Linked DNA regions of Homo sapiens: region 2 is linked to region 1. Evidence: fine-mapped expression QTL. A gene starts in region 1. The other region holds a variant in brackets. All regions are shown on one strand. Distances are between the middles of the regions. Region 1 holds the start of ATP5PD (ATP synthase peripheral stalk subunit d). Region 2 overlaps KCTD2 (potassium channel tetramerization domain containing 2).

What was found. PIP is the estimated chance that this variant, and not a neighbour inherited with it, causes the effect.
Region 2: its variant is fine-mapped to the expression of ATP5PD in whole blood (INTERVAL, PIP above 0.99).

Annotation. Positions count from the first base shown.
Region 1 is chr17:75,041,389-75,053,126 of GRCh38, reverse strand. It overlaps ATP5PD (ATP synthase peripheral stalk subunit d), which reads left to right and starts at 6,158. Exons shown (of 6, transcript NM_006356.3): 1 at 6,158-6,202; 2 at 10,468-10,598; 3 at 10,850-10,946. The coding sequence starts at 10,477. KCTD2 (potassium channel tetramerization domain containing 2) reads right to left here and starts at 5,902. Exons shown (of 6, transcript NM_015353.3): 1 at 5,538-5,902; 2 at 3,799-3,907; 3 at 22-113. The coding sequence starts at 5,876. It also overlaps the pseudogene RN7SL573P. RefSeq lists enhancers at 5,919-6,213, 6,098-6,683, 6,622-6,691, 11,290-11,738 and a silencer at 5,792-6,221.
Region 2 is chr17:75,065,131-75,076,868 of GRCh38, reverse strand. KCTD2 (potassium channel tetramerization domain containing 2) reads right to left here. Exons shown (of 6, transcript NM_015353.3): 6 at 10,983-11,738. It also overlaps the pseudogene TRIM80P. Among named protein-coding and RNA genes, the nearest start is that of SLC16A5, 17 kb to the left of the region's middle. RefSeq lists an enhancer at 8,968-9,037. The variant C/A (reference allele first, on the strand shown) is at 5,986.

The DNA.
Region 1 (11,738 bases):
TAACAGTTCCAAATACATTACTTGTGAAGTTCTGTTCTCATTGTCCCGTATCCTTTCCTTAACCAGCCGCACAAGGGACGCGATGTTGTAAAACTCCGCTTCCTCCAGCACACCTGGAACAAGGACAAAACTGCAGTCAGATAGGTGCGAGGGTTTGCCAGAAAAACACCAAGGAGAGGATGAAGGTTACATGCTTGCTAAAAACTGCTTATTTATTTATTTACTTATTTTTTGAGACGGAGTCTTACTCTGTCGCCCAGGCTGGAGTTCAGTGGTGCGATCTTGGCTCACGGCAACCTCCGCCTCCTGCGTTCAAATGATTCTCTTGCCTCAGTCTCCCAAGTAGCTGGGACTACAGGCACATACCACCACACCCGGCTGTTTCTATTTTTTCCCCCCGCCCGAAACAGAGTTTCATTCTTGTTGCCCAGGTTGGAGTGCAATGGCATGATCTTGGCTCACTGCAAACTCCGCCTGCTGGGTTCAAGAGATTCTGCTGCCTCAGCCTTCCAAGTAGCTGGGATTACAGGCGCTTGCCACCACGCCTGGCTAATTTTTTGTATTTTTAGTAGAGACAGGGTTTCATCATGTTGGTCAGGCTGGTCTTGAACTCCTGACCTCAGGTGATCCATCTGCCTTGGCCTCCCAAAGTTCTGGGATTACAGGCGTAAAGCCACCGCACCCAGCCAATTTTTGTATTTTTCGCAGAGACGGGGTTTTGCCATGTTGGCCAGGCTGGTCTCAAACTCCTAACCTCAAGTGATCCGCCCACCTTGGCCTTCCAAGTGTTGGGATTACAGGCATGAGCCACAGCTCCTGGCCTAAAAACTGCATTATTTAAATGCAAATCCAATCTCTCTCCTTCTGCTAGGAAATATCTCTTTGCTATTTTCGGTAAACCCATGACCTTTTCTCCAACATAAATTAGTCAAACGCCAGGGTATGTTCTGCTCACTCCATTTCAACCCTCCTTTCCCTACCTGGCACCTGCCCATTAGCTGCAGGACACTTTTCCCATATGTCACTTAGTTCCTGGAACTAGTCATGTTGGACACCTCCTGAACTTGATATTTTTGTCCAATCTGCCCTCAAAAGGACTGGGGGTGGGGGTGGAGGTGTGTGTACAAATTTATGTGGGCCAAACTTAATAGGATGCTAATCATTTGAACAATATAAAAGGCAACCATTTAAAGACTTGCATGCTAAATGAACTCAAAGGCCTTAGGGCAACTATGAGACGTGTGATCCTATAGGAATAAATTTGCTATAAAGGCCATTATTAGGACAACTGACAAAACTGCAATATAAGCTGTAGATAAAAGCATCAGTATTAAATTTCCTGAGTTTGATAACTGTACTGTCTGTGGTTACATAAAACAGTATCCTTGTTCTTGGGAAATATATACAAATATTAAGGGGTGAAATCTGCAATCTATTCTCAAATAGTTCAGAAATAACTGTGGTGGGAGAGGCAAGAGGATGGGGGTAGGGAGGGGGAAATAGAGAATGAAGGACAATGCAAATATGATTTAAAAAAAAAAAAGGTCGGGCATGGTGGCTCACGCCTGTAATCGCAGCATTTCGGGAGGCCAAGGCGGGTGGATCACGAGGTCAGGAGTTCAAGACCAGCCTGACCAACATGGTGAAACCCCCGTCTCTACCAAAAATAAAAAAATTAGCCAGGCGTGGTGGCATGCACCTGTAATCCCAGGTACTCAGGAGGCTGAGGCAGGAAAATCGCTTGAACCCGGGAGGTGGATGTCGCAGTGAGCTGTGATAGTGCCATTGCACTCCAGCCTGGGCAACAGAGGGAGACTCTGTCGCCAAAAAAAAAAAAAAAAAAAAAAAAGGTCGGGCGCGGTGGCTCATGTCTGTAATCCCAGTACTTTGGGAGGCTGAGGCAGGCAGATCACAAGGTCAGGAGATCGAGATGAGACCATCCTGGCTAATATGGTGAAACCCTGTCTCTACTAAAAATACAAAAAATTAACTGGGTGTGGTGGTGGGCGCCTATAGTCCCAGCTACTCGGGAGGCTGAGGCAGGAGAATGACGTGAACCTGGGAGGTGGAGCTTGCAGTGAGCCGAGATTGCGCCACTGCACTCCAGCCTGGGCAACAGAGCAAGACTCCGTCTCAAAAAAAAAAAAAAAGCTGGGCATGATGGCTCATGCCTATAATCGCAGCTACTCAGGAGGCTGAGGCAGGAGGAGCATGTGAGGCCAGACATTTGAGACCAGCCTGGGCAAGATAAGATAGACTCTGACTCTTAAAAAAACAACAAAAAGATCTCCCCATACCCCAAATATGACAAAAATAACATTGAAAATTGGTTAATCTGGGATATAGGGAGTTCTCTGTGTTATTCTTGCTCTTTTCTTGCTTATTTTGAAGTTTTAAATTACTTCAAAATAAAGTTTTTTTAATTAAAGGCATTAGAAAAGATACTTAACTAAAAGAGGGTAATTGAATTTTTGTATCACAAAGGATAAATGCTTGAGGGGATGGATACCCCATTCTCCATGATGTGCTTATTTCACACTGCATGCCTATATCCAAACATCTCAGGTCGGGCGCGGAGGCTCAGGCCTGTAATCCCAGCACTCTGGGAGGCTGAGGCAGGTGGATCACTTGAGGTTAGGAGTTCAAGACCAGCCTGGTCAACATGGTGAAACCCTGTCTCTACTAAAAATACAAAAAATTAGTCAAGCATGGTGGTGCACGCCTGTAATCCCAGCTACTTGGGAGGCTGAGGCAGGAGAATCGCTTGAACCCAGGAGGCTGAGGTTGCAGTGAGTCAAGATTGTGCCAGTGCACTCCAGCCTGAGCGAAGAAAAAAAAAAGAAAAATCTCATGTACCCCATAAATATATACACCTACTAGGTACTTACAAAAATTAAAAAAGAAAAATAAATAAGATTAAGATCACCCATGAGTTGGTAATTGTTGAAGCTGGATAGTGGATGCAAGGAATTCACTGTATGTACTATTCCCATTACTTCTGTATGCGTTTGAAATATTGTTTAAAAAGGGACATTTAAAAAAAGAGAGAGAGAGCAATTCCTCTTTCTACTAGCTGAAACAGAGTTGTTTCACAGTCACTTCATTAACTAGTACAGCCATTACAAGCTTTCTTACTCAGAGCCAAAGCTCCCAGATCAGGGTGCCCTGGATTTAGGGACAGTCCCCTTTACAACTGAATGCCTTCAGTGGGACCATGCCAAGCCTTGTAGAAAGTGGACTAGACCCACTTATAGTCCCAATGCCCTACAAACCACAAAGATGAGGCAAGTAATGATACACCTGACAATGAACTAGAGAATGAATTAGGTCAGCTGCAAACATTTACAGGGAAGCATGAGGCCAGAGTCTTAAAAGAAATGAGGCCAAGCCTTTATTATTTTTGTACAACTGTGAGTTCAAACCAAAATTAAAACTATAAATAATTGAATGTCAGAGATGTCTTGCTTCTTCAGACTACAGACACTCACTGCTAGCACACAAACAAATGTAAAAAAAGGATCGTGACAATTCTGGAGATTCGGAAAGAACTCCTGAAGTTATCTGCAAAGCGGAGCTACCTATCTTCCTTCTCACCCAGGAAGCTGAACAAAGCCTAAGGAGGCTTCCTTAATCATGACTCCCTCAGACAAGACTGGTAGTTTCTGCTCTGTTTCATAAACCTGAAACTATACCTGCACATGCGCCTGATGAAAATGTCAAACAAAATTGAAATCTGTAAAACAACTTTAAAGATTCTACTTGCATTTTGAAAATCCCCAATGCAAACAGTGCGCTTACCTTCTTCTGCCAACTCCTTAGTGATGATGAGTTTCCCGTGGCGGAGGTAGTTGAGGATAGGACCAAAGTAGGTGGGGTCCCTGTCAATCAGATAGGCTCCTGTCTCATCCTGCCAACCAAACACAAGGGTATCATTGTGGACCTTTGAGGAGTATTTTAAACAAAGGCAGGGCAGGATTTCACCATCTTTGTCAGCGCCCCAAGACAACAATTCATTCCATCAGCTAAAAAAGACTTTAGTGATGGCAAATTTTGTTACACATTTGTCACAAACTATTGGTAAGAAAGCTATAGCTTTATGTATCTTGTACATTAAGATCATCTTAGGTAGGGTGTTACAGACAGTCATACTCATTTAGGCGTTTACTTACTGGCTGGAATTTGCAATCTTTGCCTGGACAATAATTACAGTGACAAACATTCTTCTGTAGCGTGTTTGTTATTAAGAAAGGGAGAAAATGCCGTAGCTGTGTAACTGAAATCTTTGCTTGAGATGGACATTCTGACTTTTCCACTGCCTCTGAACTGCATTCCTAATTCCAAGAAAACCTCTGTGTAGTTGGCAATGCTCCTGAGCTCAAGGCCAACATCAGTGGGAGTTTGCACTGCCAGCTGTAATCTCACACACCCCAGCTCTGTGCCCAGAGGAAGCTCGGTACTGCCAGGACTTGGCTCTGAGCAGCTTTAATCCTACTCATCTTTACAGTAAAAGGAACAAGAAGAAACTGGCTTCTATTACCACAAGGAGGATATAGAGTAGATAAAAATAATTCCTTTATAAGCAAGGGTTTTGAAATCTCTTTAAAGTTAGGGCAGGATAGGTTTCCATCAATCTGAGATTTCTTAGAGAAGAGGAATAAACGAAAACAACAAATGTTTACGCAACTCCAGCTCTGTTTTGAGGTCACCAGCTGAGTGCTATATGGGATATAAGATGGTGTGAGTTATGGTCAGTGCCTTTAAGTTGAGAACTTAAAGGTGAATACGTAAAGTTAAAAAGAAATTGACACAGTTCAAACTGGAAATGGTTTAAGTGTCTTGTCACCTCTCAACCCTTTGGTTAGCAGCCATGCATCCTGCCCAAAATTTTCCCGGGAAAATTTTCATTTTCCTTCTGTCTTAGCCTAGATTTGCAGCGGCAAACAGTAACCTCTTTCCAAAAAACGCATTTGATCTAAATATGGACCTAAACCAGTGACTGTTAACAGATAAAAGTTCTGCGACCAGGACTATAGAAAAGCAGTGTGATATCACAAGGAGCGCTTCCTGCAGCTGTGGAAGCCCAACTTGGCAGAGGGGTCCGAGAGGGAGTCTGAGAAAGCTACAAGGATGCCTGAGCTAACCCTGACCCAGTTCTGGATGCATCTGGCACCGGCAGTGGGGGGACTGAAGAGGAGCCAGGGAAAACTCATGCAGATCTCAGTGGGATGTCAGGGGCAGAGAATATGGAGAAGGGGTGTGGAGTGCGTTCTCGTGGGTGCAGGTGGGCGCAGTGTGGGAAGGAGTCTCAGAGAACGAAGGGCGGGGTCGGGGAGAAAGCCAGAGTATGCCTCAGCATGGAAGAAGGGGAGTGGGAGGTCCCTCTGAGGCCCCTGCGAGTAGTGTGGGAGGGAGGGGGAGGATGGGGTCCCGGCCTGAGGGGGCTGCCTGTGAGGAGCGTGTCTCAGGACTCTGGGGACCGATCTACGAGAAACCAGGGGGTTCGAAGGCCCGGGGGCGCGCCCGAGGGCGGGGCACACCTTGTCTGAGTCCAGCTCCGGGTCCTCCTGGCAGCAGAGGCGGCAGAGAAATGACTTGGGCTCCCGGCCTAAGGTCTGTCTGGTGGTCACGAAGTAGGTGCCTCCCACGTTCAGCCTGACCCAGCGGGCCGCGCCGCCGCCCCCTGCCCGCTCGGGTGGTCCGGGACCCGGCTCCAGCGGCTGCGCGACGGCGGCAGCCGGGCGGCCGTGCCCGCGGGGCGTGGGGCCAGCCGGGCGTGGGCTGGGGGGCCCGCGGACTGGGCCACCCCCGTCGCCCACCCCACTCCCGCCGCCCCCTCCCAGCCCCGCCATCGCCGGGTCCAGCTGCAGTTCCGCCATCTTGGACCGCCGCCGCCACCGCTGCTGCCCGCGCGCAGCCGGGCCGGCCCATTTCTCGGCAGGGAGAGCCGGGCCGGCCCATCGGCGGGGGTGGGGCAGAGGGGAGAGGGACGGGAGCGCCCCCAACCAGCGCCCGGGGACCCGCGCGGGGGAGGCGCTGTGCCCGCCCCCGGGAAGATACTTCCGGAACCAGCCCTCATCTCTATTGGCTGATCTGCGAAGCAAGGCCCACCCCCTTGGCTTTGGGGTTGGCTGAGGAAAGATCTTCCCGTGACCCACTTCCGTTACTTGCTGCGGAGGACCGTGGGCAGCCAGGGTCGGTGAAGGTGAGTGGGGCTTGGGGCATTGGATCCGATCCCTGGAGGGCTCCTCTGCTCTGCCCTCTCCAAACCTCACGCCGACCCTTGTCACGCCCCCGTCAAGGACGCTGGGCCCTCGGCTTGCCCCGCTGGCAGAGTGTCCCTTGTGTAGCTGCCGCTCCTCGCCCCGCGATCCCTTCCTCAGCCCTCCTTGGCGCGCGGGGTCAGGGGGGCCCGGCTGTGTCCCAGGCGCCGCTGATGTAGGCGCTGCCACAAGCCGTGTCTCGTGCAGTCCGCTCCCAGCGCGGCAGACTTCAATAGTTTGGTGGGGGGACTGGGGAAACATTACGCAGACAGTGTTAACCTGCCGAGGGACGCTCAGCTGGCTGCGGGGCTGCGCCCTTCCCCTTCGGCAGCTTCCAGGATTCGAACGTATAGAGCGTTCAGGGCTCCTCGGGTGCAGAGTTCGGTTACTCATTCAAGAAAGATTCATTGAGCACCTCCTATGCGCATGATCTGTTCTAGGCGCTGGGGATTAAGCAATAGATTTTTAAGAATTAAAAAAAATTTCGCCGGGCGCGGTGGCTCACGCCTGTAATCCCAGAATTTTAGGAGGCCAAGGCGGGCGAATCGCGAGGTCAGGAGTTCGAGACCAGCCTGGCCAACGTAGTGAAACCCCGCCTCTACTAAAAATACAAAAAATTAGCTGGGCGTGGTGGAAGGCCCCTATAATCCCAGCTGCTCGGGAGGCTGAGGCAGGAGAATCGCTTGAACCCGGGAGGCGGAGGTTGCAGTGAGCCGAGACCACGCCACTACACTCCAGCCCAGGCGACAGTGCGAGACTCCGTCTCACTCACACACACACACAAAGTTATTTGTGACTTCCATTTTCCACTGATGTTGCGGGAAATCAGGGACCCCAAACAGAGAGACCGGCTGAAACCATGGCAGAAGAACGTGGATTGTGAAGATTTTATGGACATTTATTAGTTCCCCAAATTAATACTTTTGTAATTTCTTATGCCTGTCTTTACTGCAATCTCTAAACATAAATTGTAGAGATTTCATGGACACTTATCACTTCCCCAGTCAATACTCTTCTGATTTCCTATGCCTGTCTTGTCTTTAATCTCTTAATCCTGTCAGTTGAGGATGTATATCGTTCCAGGACCCTGTAATAATTGTGTTAACTACAAAAATTGTACAGCATGTGTGTTTGAGCAATATGAAATGTGGGCACCCTGAAAAAAGAACAGGATAACAGCAATTGTTCAGGGAACAAGAGAGAACCTTAAACTCTGACCGCCGGTGAGCCGGGCAGAACAGAGCCATATTTCTCTTCCTTCAAAAGCAAATGGGAGAAATATCGCTGAATTCTTTTTCTCAGCATGGGATATCCCTGAGAAAGAGAATGCGCACCTAGGGGTAGGTCTCTGAACTGGCCCCCCTGGGGCGTACCTGTCTCTTATGGTTGAGACTGCAGGGGTGAAATAAACTCCAGTCTCCCATAGCGATCCCAGGCTTATTAGGAAAAGGAAATTCCCACCTAATAAATTTTGGTCAGACCGGTTGATCTGAAAACCCTGTCTCCTGATAAGATGTTATCAATGACAATGGTGCCCAAAACTTCATTAGCAATTTTAATTTCGCTCTGGTCCTGTGGTCTTGTGATCTCACCCTGCCTCCACTTGCCTTGTGATATTCTATTACCCTGTTAAGTACTTGATGTCTGTCACCCACACCTATTCGTATACTCCCTCCCCTTTTGAAACTCCCTAATAAAAACTTGCTGGTTTTTGTGGCTTGTGGGGCATCACGGATCCTACCAACGTGTGATGTCTCCCCCGGACGCCCAGCTTTAAAATTTCTCTCTTTTGTACTCTGTCAAGCCAGTCGACGCTTAGGAAAATAGAAAAGAACCTATGTGACTATCGGGGCAAGTTCCCCGATACACTGATGTTTGGGAAAGTCTGTAAGGGTGCTTGGTTCCCTGGTAACTTTAAAATCACATGCCAATTGCCTTAACACCTCCCCTCCACAACAGGAAACAGGCTGTCCTGAGAAAGAAAGGAAGGACAGGACAGGTGTTTGACAACTTTCTTGAAGATCCTGAGAAAGACTGCTTCCGCCTCCCTTGCATTCCACTCCAAGCTTATAGAGATTTTTGACTTTGCAGTCTTTTAATATCTGACCCTGATCTTACTTAAAGAGGACTATTTTCCTATATTCTGACTTTTTTTTTAAGTGGCTGTAGTCGTTTTCTGTATTTTTCTCACATTTTCACATGTGTTGAATACCTCTTAAAATGCAGGCCGGGCGCGGTGGCTCATGCCTGTAATTCCAGCACTTTGCAAGGCTGAGGTGGGTGGATCACCTGAGGTCTGGAGTTTCAGCCCATCCTGGCCAACGTGGAGAAACCCTGTCTCTACTAAAAATACAAAAATTAGGGCCGGGCGCGGTGGCTCACGCCTATAATCCCAGCACTTTGGGAGGCCGAGGCGGGTGGATCATGAGGTCAGGAGATCGAGACCATCCTGGCTAACAAGGTGAAACCCCGTCTCTACTAAAAATACAAAAAATTAGCCGGGCGCGGTGGCGGGCGCCTGTAGTCCCAGCTACTCGGGAGGCTGAGGCAGGAGAATGGCGTGAACCCGGGAAGCGGAGTTTGCAGTGAGCCGAGATTGCGCCACTGCAGTCCGCAGTCCGGCCTGGGCGACAGAGCGAGACTCCGTCTCAAAAAAAAAAAAAAAAATACAAAAATTAGCTGGGTGTGGTGGTGGGTGCCTGTAATCCCAGCTACTCCGGAGGCTGAGGCAGGAGAATCGCTTGAGCCTGGGAGGTGGAGGTTGCAGTGAGCCAAGATGATGCCACTGCACTCCAGCCCGGGGGACAGAGTGAAACTCCATCTCAAAAAAAAAAAAAAAAAAAGTGCACAACGTGTGCTGGTGCTGCTAGGGTATAATCCGATGTGAATAAGAAGGTGCAGGTGTATTACCAATCTAGTTGGAAGGGGATAGCCCTTTTAAGTTTGTAAAACTCTGGAGCAAGTTGCTGTGCACAATTTCATGTGACACTTTTAGCAGCCCTCTGGGGCAAGCAGGACTGATAATGCCCATTGTACACATAAGTAAATTTTAGCCTAGAGAGTGCTCTATTTAAGGCTTGTTGAAACTTAGGTGTGTGTCAGTTTCTGTCTACTGGAGAATCAGTGAATAAAACACAATCTGGGTGGAAATGTCTTTATTAACTTTTATGCAATAAGAGTGTTATTTTTAGTAATTTTTCCAGAGGCACATGGAGGGGATAAAGAGAGCTGGGGTTTGTTTTTTTTTTTTTTTTTGAGACAGAGTCTCACTCTGTGTCCAGGCTGGAGTGCAATGGCGCTATCTCAGCTCACTGCAACCTCCGCCGCCCAGGTTCAAGTGATTGTCCTGTCTAAGCCTCTTGAGTACCTGGGACTACAGGTGCATGCCATCACGCCCGGCTAATTTTTGTATTTTTTAGTAGAGGCAGGGTTTCACCCTATTGCTCAGGCTGGTCTTGAACTCCTGACCTCAAGTGATCCACCCACCTCAGCCTCCCAAAGTGCTGGGATTACAGAAATGAGCCACTGCGCCCGGCCAAGAGAGCTGGGCTTTTAAGGCTAAATAGGAGTTGGGAGAGAATGTATTTGTATGCCACATTGCACACTTTGAATTTGAAAAGCTACACTGTCCTTTCCTTTTCTTTTTGAGACGGACTCTTGCTGTGTTGCCCAGGCTAGGGTGCACTGATGCCATCTCAGCTCATTACAACCTCTGCCTCCTGGGTTCAAGTGATTCTTATGCCTCAGCCTCTGGAGTAGCTGGGATTATGGCGCGGGCCACCACGGCTGGCTAATTATTGTATTTTTAATAGAGATGGGGTTTTGCCATGTTGGCCATGCTGGTCTCGAACTCCTGACCTCAGGTGATCCAACCGTCTTGGCCTCCCAAAGTGCTGGGATTACAGGCGTGAGCCCACTGCGCCTGGCCGCACACCTTGAATTACCTTGAATTTGAAAAGCTACACTGTCTTTTTTTCTTTTTTTTTGAGTTGGAGTCTTGCTGTGTCTCCCAGGCTGGAGTGCAGTGATGCAGTCTCGACTCACTGCAACCTCCACCTCCTGGGTTCAAGTGATTCTTGTGAAGACTTGCATGTTTCTAAGATTTAAAGGATTCTCTCTAAGAGCTCTTATTTTGTTATTTATCATTTTTCCCAACTGAAAATTCACCTCATAAAAAAGCCTTGTTTTTATTTGACTTATTTTTCAGGATCCCAAAATGGCTGGGCGAAAACTTGCTCTAAAAACCATTGACTGGGTAGCTTTTGCAGAGATCATACCCCAGAACCAAAAGGCCATTGCTAGTTCCCTGAAATCCTGGAATGAGACCCTCACCTCCAGGTCAGTATGTTTCTGAGAGGGAACCCCATACTTGCCACTGAATCTAGAAACAAAACAGTATTAAGGAATTACATATGAATTCTTGATGCCCTTATGACAACATATAAAGAAATCCTTGCATTTTCATGATGATCTTAGGAGAGGAAAGTGTGGTGACCCTCCAGGCCATAGGAAGAAGGGATAGGAAAATTACCATGTGAATTTTCTACTGCTTATGAACAATCCTAACTTTTGCCTTTCCTTGTGGGCAGGTTGGCTGCTTTACCTGAGAATCCACCAGCTATCGACTGGGCTTACTACAAGGCCAATGTGGCCAAGGCTGGCTTGGTGGATGACTTTGAGAAGAAGGTGAGACTTCACACCTCTAAAGCACTGAGCTTGTAACATGCCTGTGGGTAGGGAGCAGGAACAGGGATAATTACATACACAGCATGACAGCCAGATCCCTAAGGAAGCTTAGGAAGGATGCGTATGGCCAAAGGCCTTGTGGTCGATTGAACTGTAAATAGGTGCAGGAATTTAGGCTCTGTTCATTCAGCAGTAGAGTGTAGCCTTAATCTGGGAGCCAGAGGGCTTTCTGATCAGCACAGGAGTTTTGACCTGCTCTGTTTCTGACCTGGGCCGGTTCACCCCTTCTTAGGCAACCTGGTGGTCCCCCGCTCCTGGGAGGTCACCATATTGATGCTGAACTTGGTGAAGACACCCGATCGGCATAACGCGCTACAGCCCAGAACTCTTGGGCTCAAGCAATCCACGTGCCTCAGCCAGGCATGCGCCACCACGCCCCAGGGGGCTTTCAAGTTAAATGTTTGCCCACCTCCTGGGTTCCTTTTAGCTTCCTTCCTGTCTCCCTTTGGAACAAACTGACTTTTTTTCTACTCTTTTCCTGTCCTTTTTCTTTTGAGACGGAGTTTTGCTCTGTCACCCAGGGTGGAGTGCAGTGGCGCAATCTCAGCTTACTGCAGCCTCTGCCTCCCAAGCTCAAGCCATCCTTCTGTCTTAGCCTCCTGAGTAGCTGGGACTACAGGTGCATGCCACCACCACACCTGATAAATTTTCGTTTTGTTTTTTTTTTTTTTTTGGTAGAGACAGGTTTTTGTCATATTGCTCAGGCTGGTCTCAAACTCTGGGCTCAGGCAA
Region 2 (11,738 bases), 24 kb before region 1:
CAGCCTGACCAACATGGTGAAACTCCATCTCTAATAAAAATACAAAAAAATTGGCAAGACATGGTGGCAGGCACCTGTAGTCCCAGCTACTCGGGAGGCTGAGGCAGGAGAATCACTTGTACCCAGGAGGGGGAGGTTGCAGTGAGCCGAGATGGCGCCATTCCACTCCAGCCTGGGAGACAGAGCGAGAGTCTGTCTCAAAAAAAAAAAAAAAAAAAAAAGGCCAGGCGCGGTGGCTCACGCCTGTAATCCTGTAATCCCAGAACTTTGAGAGCTGGTTAAAGAAGCTGAGGCCCATGTCCAGCAGCCGCATCCAGAGCTCAGCCAGGGTCTCTGGCAGCTGGGGGAAGCTCTGCGTTTCCTCACAGTTGATGCCCATCAGGGGTTCCATGCAGGCTGAGAACTGCTTCAGTCGGAGGAACCCCTGGATGCAGGGAGGGGCCAGAGGTACCACCTGTTAGCCAGGACCTAGGCCGATGCCACAGGCCCAGAGGCCTCCAGAACCATGGGCCGGTGGAGCAGAAGCTTCCCCTTTCCAAACCTGGGCATCTCCTTTCCCTCCTCCTAGCTATTTGGACATCAGAGGTCAGGGCTTTGCCAAGGGCTTGGCCACTGTGGCCTAGTGTGCATTAGGCAAAGGGGATTTTCAGAAAATGATGGGAGGATTTTTGTTGTGCCTTGAACTGCTTAGTAAAAGCCATTGCCAAATGCTTCCCATTGTGCACAGGGGACAAAGTGAGCAGTTGCCCTAGATGTCTGCCCAGGGTGTGATGGCAGCTTAAAGGAAGCTGGAGTTCCCAAGCACAGGGTTTGGGCAACTCCAGGCACCGTCCAGAAAAGGCTGCTGCTTGGCCCCACCCGCTACTTACAGCAGCATCAGTCCAGGCTTCAGGGCCAGGCCAGGATTGGGGAAGGAAAAGGGATTTCACGATTCTTTTTTTTTTTCTTTTTTTGAGACAGAGTCTTAGTTTGTTGCCCAGGCTGGAGTGCAATGGTGCAGTCTTGGGTCACTGCAACCTCCACCTCCTGGGCTGGAAAAGGGATTTCAATCCAGGCTATACAGATTGTTCTGGTCTCACTCTCAGCCATGATCCAGGGAAGTCTGGAGAAACTTAGGCTGTGCTAGATGCCTGGAATCCCATGTGTTCCAGGAAAACCAAGGCAGGAAAGTTAGGGTAAGGCTGAGCTCTGAAGTGGAGAAAGCCAAGGGTGTTCGTGCAAGCTCAAGACAGAAGACCTGGAATGGGGAGGCTCCCTGAGGCAGGGGAATGGACACAGTGATGCACCCTAAAGGCTGATCTGTGTGTGTGTGTGTGTGTGTGTGTGTGTGTGTGTGTGTTTTTGAGACGGAGTTTCGCTCTTGTTGCCTAGGCTGGAGTGCAGTGGCGCAATCTCCGGCTCACCGCAACCTCCGCCTCCTGGGTTCAAGCAATTCTCCTGCCTCAGCCTCCTGAGCAGTCAGGATTACAGGCATGTGCCACCACACCCAGCTAATTTTTGTATTTTTAGTAGAGACGGGGTTTCTCCATGTTTGGTCAGGGTGGTCTCGAACTGCCAACCTCGGGTGATCTGTCCGCCTCGGCCTCCCAAAGTGCTGGGATTACAGGCGTGAGCCACCGCACCCGGCTGTGTGTGTGTGTGTGTGTGTGTTTTGTGGTTTTTTTTTTTTGAGATGGAGTTGTGCTCTTGTTGCCCAGGCTGGAGTGCAATGCATGATCTCAGCTCACTGCAACCTCCGTCTCCCAGGTTCAAGTGATTCTCCTGCCTCAGCCTCCCGAGTAGATGGGATTACAGGCGCCTGCCACCAAGCCTGGCTAATTTTTGTATTTTTAGTAGAGGTGGGATTTCACCATGTTGGTCAGGCTGGTCTCCAACTCCTGACCTCAGGTGATCCGCCTGCCTCGGCCTCTCACAATGCTGGGATTACAGGCATGAGCCACCACTCCCGACCGAGATCTGATGTGTTTGTGGGTGGAGGGAGAGTGGAAGCTGCGATGGGGCCTGAGCCAGAGGCAGAGGGCTGGGACCTTGCCTGCAGACGTTGCTGGTCACTCTGGTTGATGAGCAGGGTGTGGAGCCAGACGCTGTCTCCTTCCAGCTTCAGGAGCCGGTTGTGGCTCTGCTGGATGGAGCTGCTCAGCATCCCCAGGGCGGCTGCTTCCTCTTTCTCCACGAAATCCAAGATCTGCATCTGCAGCTGTTTGACCTCCTGATGATCTCCGAGAAGTGGGTGTTCGCCTCACCTCGCATTGTCTGGATCAGTTCCTGGAGGTTGTGGGGTGTGTAGAGAGGCGTCCGTGAGCTCCACTCCAGCACCACCACTGTCACAGCCCGGAGCCCACCTAGGCATCCTGTCCCTGACTGCCTGGTCCCATGCCATCCACTCAGAGTCCTGGGAGGTCCCTGCAGCCTGATGCAGGGCACTGGGGAAGCCTGGGCCTGGGGTGGGGTGGGCCAACCTTACTGAGAGAAAGGCCACCCGACCCTGGTGCTTTTGGCCGTCAGCAGCGATGATCAGCATCTGCTTCCCCACAGTGTCCTGGACCTTTTGAACCTCGACCTGGGGTAAGGTGTTGGGGGAGAGGAGGAGGGGCCCCTGATTCAGAGAGGTGGCCTCAGAGAAGCCCTACTGCAAACAGGCCCATGTCCGAGCCCAGAAGAGACATCCCTCATTCATTCTTCTGCTCAGCTTAATGAGAATGAGGGTGCAGTGCTGGATGGCCCACGGCCTAGCCCTCTGCTTGGAGGGCTGCTCCCACTCCCTGAGAGCCTGTCTCTAATTCGAAGGAATCAGGTTATTTGCTCCTAACAGTGATGATCATAGGGTTTCAGGCCACAGGAAAGGGCCTTGGAGAGCTCAGGAGGCAGCAGGGCCAGAAGGGGCATAGCAGGTATACAGCCGTGTGGGCGCCCTGCGGCAGTGCTGCCAGGCCCAAGTCCCACATAAGCCTTTAGTCTCCACCTATCCCAGCAACGGGGATTTTCATTGTTATATTACACAACAGTGCAATTCCAAGTGCTGTCCATGAACCACTGCTGGCTCTTAGCAACATAAGAAGCTCATGCCAGGTTGTAAATCAATGTAGTCCTTCCTTCACTGACAAAGTCTTTTTTTTTTTTTTAAGGCAGTGTCTCGCTTTGTCCCCCAGGCTGGAGCACAGTGGTGCAATCTCAGCTCACTGCAACCTCTGTCTGCCTCCCTGGCTGAAGCCATATTCCCAGCTTAAGCCATCTTCCCACCTCAGCCTCCTGAGTAGCTGAGGCTACAAAATCTTGCAATGAAAAAAGTGTCAGCCGGGTGAGGTGGCTCACGCCTGTAAATCCCAGCACTTTGAGAGGCCCAGGGGGGCAGATCACTTGAGGTCAGGAGATCGAGACCATCCTGGCCAACACGGTGAAACCCCGTCTCTACTAAAAATACAAAAATTAGCTGGGTGTGGTGGCGCGCGCCTGTAATCCCAGGTACTCAGGAGGCTGAGGCAGGAGAATAGCTTGAACCTGGGAGGCAGAGGTTGCAGTGAGCCAAGATCACCCCATTGCACACCAGCCTGGGCGACAGAGCAAGACTCCATCTCAAAAAAAAAAAAGTATATATATATATAGGCCGGGCGTGGTGGTGCATGCTTGTAATCCCAGCTAATTGGGAGGCTGAGGCAGGAGGATTGCTTGAACCTGACAGGTGGAGGTTACAGTGAGCTGAGACTGAGTTACTGCCATCCAGAGACTCAAAATAAATAAATAAATAAATAAATAAATAAATAAATAAATAAATATGTATATATATATATATACAGTATATTAAACACAATTTGGTTTTTTTTTTTTTGAGACAGAGTCTCACTCTGTTGCCCAGGCTGGAGTGCAGTGGTGCAGTCTTGGCTCACTTCAACCTCTGCCTCCCGGATCAAGCGATTCTTGATTCTCATGCCTCAGCTACTTGAGTAGCTGTGATTACAAGCGTGCGGCACCACGTCTGGCTAATTTTATTTTTTTTGGTATATTTTAGTAGAGACGGGGTTTCACCATGTTGGCCAGACTCGTCTTGAACTCCTGGCCTCGAATGATCTGCCTGCCTCGGCCTTCCAAAATGCTGGGATTACGGGTGTGAATCACGGCTCCCAGCCTTAAACACAATTTGAAAATGGAGGCGACCTGGCACCAGTGCTCACGCCTGTAATCCCAGCACTTTGGGAGGCTGAGGCAGGCAGATCACCTGAGGTCAGGAGTTCAAAATTAGCCTGGCCAACATGGTGAAACCCCGTCTCTACAAAAAATACAAAAATTAGCTGGGCGAAGTGGCAGGTGCCTGTAATCCCAGCTACTTGGGAAGTTGAGGCAGGAGAATTGCTTGAACCCAGGAGGCAGAGGTTGCAATGAGTTGAGGTCGTGCCATTACACTCCAGATTGGGCGACAAGAGAGAAACTCCATCTCAAAAAAAAAAGAAAGGAAAATGGAGGAAAGGGGGAGAGTCACACAACCTAAAGTGATGCGCTTGGATTTTGATATGTTGATAGAGGTTTCATACATACAATTCTGAATCCTTATTTAACTCACTAGTACTTTTTATGCCACAACATGACCCTGGTGACCATGACTTTAATAGCTGCTTAATTTTCTTCCAAGGAAATGTGAACAAAATAATGTCTTCATTTAGAAATATGACTGATGGGGGCTTGGCAGGGATTACTAGGCTCCGGAAGAGGCTGTGTTATCTTCCAGCCCAACTGTCCACATTTAGAAGTGACAACATTCATGAACTAAGTCAACATCCACCAAAAATAACATAAGATAAAGCTCACCGTTTTGGAACATGAAAATGACACACACAGACCTCACCCACCAATCTCTAAGCTGGGACAACAAACGCTTGCATTTAAACTTCTCTAAAATGTCAAATTAGCATATTCTTTCCCTCCATGTAAAGTTTCAATAAACTTGACTCAATCTGCCTTTATTTTAAAAACCTTACAAAAGATGTATTTAAATCCTTGAAAAAATTAACTTTAGGCTGGATGCGATGGCTCAGGCCTGTAATCCCAGCACGTTGGGAGGCCAAGGTGGGCGATCACATGAGGTTAGGTGTTCGAGACCAGCCTGACCAACATGGTGAAACCCTGTCTCTACTAAAAATACAAAATTAGGCAGGCATGGTGGCACATGTCTGTATCCAAGGTACTCAGGAGGCTGAGGCAGGAGAATCACTTGAACCCAGGATGTGGAGGTTGCAGTGAGCCGAGATAGTGCCATTGCACTCCAGCCTGGGCAACAAGTGTGAAACTCTGTCTCAAAAAAAAAGAAAAATTAACTTTATACTGTGTGCACAAATAAATTTCTCTTATACAGCTAAATATGGTTACATACTTTGTTTAAAAAAATTTTTTTTCCACTAATGACACTTCACATGTATTTCTACATAAACTATCTTTCTATTCTTCTGGGAATGTGTCCTAAGAGCTGACAGACGGACGGTTGAAAATACCCTCACACGGCTGGGCACAGTGGCTCAGGCCTGTAATCCCAGCACTTTGGGAAGCCGAGGCAGGTGGATCACCTAAGGTCAGGAGTTTGAGACCAGCCTGGCCCACATGGCAAAAACCCGTCTCTACTAAAAATACAAAAATTAGCCGGGTGTGGTGGCGGGCGCTTGTAATCCCAGCTACCTCGGGAGGCTGAGGCAGGGGAATCGCTTGAACCTTGGAGGTGGAGGTTGCAATGGGCCAAGATGGTGCCACTGCACTCCAGCCTGGGCAACAGAGCAAGACTCCATCAAAAAAAAAAGAGAGAAAGAGAGAGAAGGAAAGAAAGAAAGAGAGAAAGAAAGAAAGAGAAAGAAAGAAAGAAAGAAACAGAAAGAAAGAAAGGAAGGAAGAAAGAAGAAAGAAAGAAAGAAAGAAAGAAAGAAAGAAAGAAAGAAAGGCCTCAACCACCCAGGCTCAAGCAATCCTTTTACCTCAGCCTCGAAAGAAAGAAAGAAGGAAGGCAGG[C/A]AGGCAGGCAGGCAGGCAAGCAAGCAAGCAAGCAAGCAAGCCTTGACCTTCCAGGCTCAAGCAATCCTTTCACCTCAGCCTCCCAAGTACCTGGGTTTATAGGTATGAGCCACCTCTCCTGGCCAAGCATATATTTTTTTCTTTTTTTGAGACAGGGTTTCTCACTCTGTTGCCCAGGCTGGAGTACAGTGGCACAATCATAGCTCCCTGCAGCCTCGAATACGATCCACCTGCCCCGGCCTCCCAAAGGGCTGGGATTACACAAATGAGCTACCACATCTGGCCGATATTTTATTTTTATTTATTTATTTGTTTTTGAGACAGAGTCTCACTCTGTTGCCCAGGTTGGAGTGCAGTGGCGTGATCTTGGCTCACTACAACCTCCACCTCCCGGGTTCAAGTGATTCTCCTGCCTCTGCCTCCTGAGTAGCTGGAATTACAGGCACCTGCCGCCATGCCTGGCTCATTTTTGTATTTTAGTAGAGACGGGGTTTCACCATATTGGCTGGGCTTGTCTCGAACTCCTGACCTCAGGTGATCTGCCCACCTTGCCTTCCCAAAGTGCTGGGATTACAGGCGTGAGCCACCACGCCCGGCCCCAGTCTTTTTTTTTTTTTAATTGGGCAGTCCTCTGAATCAGAGTAAGTTCAGAAAGATTCTAGGAAAACCATGATCTTAATGAAAGTATTTAAGTAAAAATTAAAATGAAAATATAAAACTTAGAAGCAATTTAATTGCCCTGTATAGAAAATTGATCAAGGAATTAATCTGGCTTCATGGAGTAACAGTTTACTCCAGGGGAAAGCTTTACTGATGAAAATCTTTCTGTGTGGTATGACTCTTATTAAAAATTTAGCTCTGTGCTGCCACCTGGGCTTTATGGCTGGGGAGATCCAGTGATACTGAAATTATCTCCTGCCAGTACAGATGCTGTATCAGAGCCTCCTGCAAGTCCCAACTGGACTGTGGCCATGCAGAACTCCAGGGTTCTGGGCAGGTCCATGTCCTCTTTTGCAAGTAACTATTTCACTGGGCCCTGACCGAGATGGAACACCTAGTTCATGGGACATCAAGTGACCCTGTGGCCTGAGCTGCCCGTCACCAACTAGGTGTTGTGTATTACACCAACCGAATTAGGAGTAATTAACAAAAATTTTTTTCTTTTGTAGAGACAGGTCTTGCTATGTTGCCCAAGATGGTCTTGAACTCCTGGCCTCAAGCAATCCTCTCACCTCAGCCTCCCAAAGTGCTGGGATTACAGGTGTGGGCCATGGTAACTGGCCAATTTTTTTTTTTTTTTTTAAGAGACAGGTTCTGGCTGGGCATAGTGGCTCACGCCTGTAATCCCAGCACTTTGGGAGGCCGAGCCGGGTGGATCACGAGGTCAGGAGATCAAACCATCCTGGCCAACATGGTAAAACATTGTCTCTACTAAAAATACAAAAATTAGCTGGATGTGGTGGCACACGCCTGTAATCCCAGCTACTCGGGAGGCTGAGGCAGGAGAATCGCTTGAACCTGGGAGGCGGAGGTTGCAGTGAGCCTAGATGATACCATTGCACTCCAGCCTGGGCAACAAGAGTGAAACTCCGTCTCAAAAAAAAAAAAAGAGAGACAGTGTCTCACTCTGTCTCTCAGGCTAGAGGGCACAGCTCACTGCAGCTTTGAAATCCTTGGCTCAAGTGATCCTCCCACCTCAGCCTCCTGAGTAGCTGGAACTACAGGCATGTGTCACCACGCCTGGCTAATTAAAAAAAAAATTTTATAGATGGGGCCTATGTTGCCCATCCTGGTCTTGAACTCCTGGCCTCAAGCAGTCCTCCCACTTCAGCTTCCCAAAGTACTGGGATTCCAGGTGTGAGCCTGGCAATTAGGAGCAATTAACATAGCTCAGAAATAGTGACTGTCTCTGAGACAGGGATACAATGACTTGGCACTTCGTGTTTATTTTGGAGGGAAGGAGAGATTATTTTTGCTTGTAGAAGGGTAGTTGTATCTTGTTCCATGGAGGCATGAAGTTGTTTTTTCACCACGTTTTTTTTTCTTTTTTTCCGAGTCGGAGTTTCGCTCTTGTTGCCCAGGATGGAGCGCAATGGCATGATCTCGGCTTACTGCAACCTCTGTCTCCTGAGTTCAAGCGATTTTCCTGCCTCAGCCTCCAGAGTACCTGGGATTACAGGCACCCGCCACCACGCATAGCTAATTTTTTTTTTTTTTTTTTTTTGAGACGGAGTCTCGCTCTGTCGCCCAGGCTGGAGTGCAGTGGCGCGATCTTGGCTCACTGCAAGCTCCACCTCCCGAGTTCACGCCATTCCCCTGCCTCAGCCTCCCGAGTAGCTGGGACTACAGGTGCCCACCACTACGCCCAGCTAATTTTTTGTATTTTTAGTAGAGACAGGGTTTCACCGTGTTAGCCAGGATGGTCTCCATCTCCTGACCTCGTGATCCACCCGCCTTGGCCTCCCAAAGTGCTGGGATTACAGGCGTGAGCCACCGCGCCCAGCCTAATTCTTTGTATTTTTAGTAGAGACGGGGTTTCATCATGTTGGCCAGGCTGGTCTCAAACTCCTGACCTCAAGTGATCCACCTGCCTTGGCCTCCCAAAGTGCTGGGATTATAGGCATGAGCCACCACACCCAGCATTTTTCACCATCCTATGCAAGTTCAAGTATGTGCAGAAGCATGTACATGTGAGGGGAACCAAACAGGTGGACTGAGCCAGTCACCACATTGTTGTCTCTCAGCCCCAAACCCACCCTCTGAACTCTGCTCCGAGCCACATTTTCCCCCTCCTAGCTCAACCTGGTAGGACAGGCTGAGGGAGACTGCAAGACGAGAGAAAAAAAGGAGGGACGATGTATTTCCTGTTGTGAGCCAAACCACAGAACACTGCTGTGTGCTGGCATAGCTGATTCCAGGAGTGGTGCTGGTTTCTTGGTGGTTTCTCTACCCTCTGAGAGGCAGCAGCTGCCACTGGCCAGCACGTCCTTCTCCATTGGTCCCCTCCTCTTGAATCTCCATTTTATTTTGAGACACAATCTCTGTCACCCAGGTTGGAGTGCAGTGGTGTGATCTCAGCCCACTGCAACCTCCACCTCCCGGGTTCAAGCAATTCTCGTGCCTCAGCCACCCAAGTAGCTGGGATTACAAGCATGTGCCACCATGCCCGGCTAATTTTTGTATTTTTAGTAGAAACAGGGTTTCACCATGTTGGCCAGGCTGGTCTCAAACATCTGACTTCAAGTGATCTGCCTGCCTCGGCCTCCCAAAGTGCTGGGATTACAGGTGTGAGCCACCACACTTGGCCTTATTTTATTTTTAGATTTAATTTTACATAGAGACAGAGTCTCACCACGATGCCCAGGCTGATCTCACACTCCTGGGCTCAAGCAATCCTCCCAGCTTGGGCCTCCCAAAGTGCAGGTGAATCTTTTTTTTTTTTTTTTTTTTTTGAGACTGAGTCTCGCTCTGTCACCAGGTTGGAGTGCAGTGGCGTGATCTCTGCTCATTGCAACCTCTGCCTCCCGGGTTCAAGCCATTCTCCTGCCTCAGCCTCCCGAGTAGAGTAGCTGGGATTACAGGCACCTGCCACCATGCCCAGCTAATTTTTATATTTTTAGTAGAGACGGGGTTTCACCATGTTGGCCAGGATAGTCTAGATCTCCTGACCTCGTGATCCGCTCGCCTCGGCGTCCCAAAGTGCTGGGATTACAGGCGTGAGCCACTGCGCCCAGCCCTTTTATTTTTTTGAGGCGGAGTTTTGCTCTTGTTGCCCAGGCTGGAGTGCAATGGCGTGCTCTCGGCTCACCACAACCTCCACCTCTCAGGTTCAAGTGATTCTCCTGCCTCAGCCTCCCGAGTAGCTGGTCCGGCTAATTTTGTATTTTTTAGTAGAGATGGGGTTTCTCCACGTTAGTCAGGCTGGTTTCGAACTCCTGACCTCAGGTGATCCGCCTGCCTTGGCCTCCCAAAGAGCTGAGATTACAGGTGTGAGCCACCGCGCCCGGCCAAATCTCCACTTTAATAATCCCAATGTCTTCCCACTGTTCTCAGGTCCCAGGAGTGAGGACTGCACCCTGCAATCCCTACATTGTGATGCCTCAGTGTCCACTCCTGCCCTTTCCTTTCTCCACTACCAGTTAACAACTGCTGTGGTCTCAATTGGACCCTGACGGATGCACCCACGCATCCTGTTCACTAAGCTGTATGAGTCCATTTTGTCTCCCTACCTGAAAGTGCTGTCTGGAAGGGACTAACACCTTCTGAGTTTCCCATGCCCCGCCTGATGCTGAAGTGATCAATACTTGTTTGTTGGTTGTCACCAAACGTTCCTCACTCATCCTCTTCCTTGTACCTAGTCACTCACTCTCTTCCAGAAAGACTTGTCCCTTAAAAACCATCTCACGGCCGGGGATGGTGGCTCATGCCTGTAACCCCAGCACTTTGGGGGGCTGAGGCGGGAGGATCACCTGAGGTCGGAGTTCGAGACCAGCCTGGCCAACACAGCAAAATACTGTCTCTACTAAAAATACAAAAATTAGCCAGGCGCGCAGGCAGGCGCCTGTAATCCCAGCTACTCAGGAAGCCGAGGGAGAATTGCTTGAACATGGGAGGCAGAGGTTGCAGTGAGCCGAGATTGCACCACTACACTCTAGCCTGGGTGACAGAGCGAGACTCCATCTCGGGGAAAAAAAAAAAAAAAAAAAATCTCACACTCCTCCCCTTGTCTCTTTCCAGCTCTCTGGTGGGCAGCCCATCCGTCCCACCTTCTGTTTCTCTGCATTCTCTGGGTCTTTTCAGATTCAGTAAAATGAAAGGGAGGAGGGAGAAGGCCCAACACCCCCTTTGGTGGTTTCAGTAGCAGGAGAAAAGGACTTAGTCAGCTGTCCTGGTAGGAAAGGTAGTTAAGTCATCTCCTGAAACCCATGTGAGAACCATCGACAGGAAGTGACAGTGGGAACCAGGAGACTGCAGTAATGGAAAACACACCACAGTTCTTGAGATTCAGAAGTTTCATATCTTTATTCACACAAAAAAAGTCACAGCATTTCAGACTATTCAAACACACAAACAGGAACAGAGGGTGCCCACCAGTGACAGCCTCGTCCCTAAGTCTGGATCAAAGGCCACGCTGGAGGGTGGGGTGTCCTCTCGGGCCTCCTCTCTCAGCATCCCGTGGCTCCCTGCTCCCAGCCTCACTGACATCCCCAAGAGCAGTTACAACTGTGCAGAAACAAAGTCACTTTAGAGGAGGCTGGGCCCCACCTCATTGCCATGGAAAAAGGCCAGATTCTGAGGAAAAGACAGAATCAGTGCTACTGTGTCATCAGTTGGGGGATGCTGGGCACTCCTGGGCCTGGCTGGCATCACCTGCGTCCCAGACCTGGGGCAGAGAAAAAGGCAGGACCCTCCCCACTTGGCAGTACTGGGCAGCAGAGAGTGTGGGTCACTGGTCACGTGACAGCCCCAAACTGCCACGCAGACCTCTCTGATGTGATCAGCCAGACACTCAGAGGGCACAACGCTTTCAAGCAAGAACACCAGCCTGGTTCCTAAAGGGGGTGGGTGAACAACGCTCCCAGAAATCTTAAGAACCCAGAGTCCTGGAGCGCTGGAACAATACAGGTGTCATTGGGTTGCAGCGAGGAGGGAAACTTGGTGAACACCAGCCCTCCGAGAGGGCGGAAATACCACTCCTGTCTATTTCCCAGAGCACGTGCCTGTGCCTTGGGGCTCAAGAGCAGTCTTTTCAT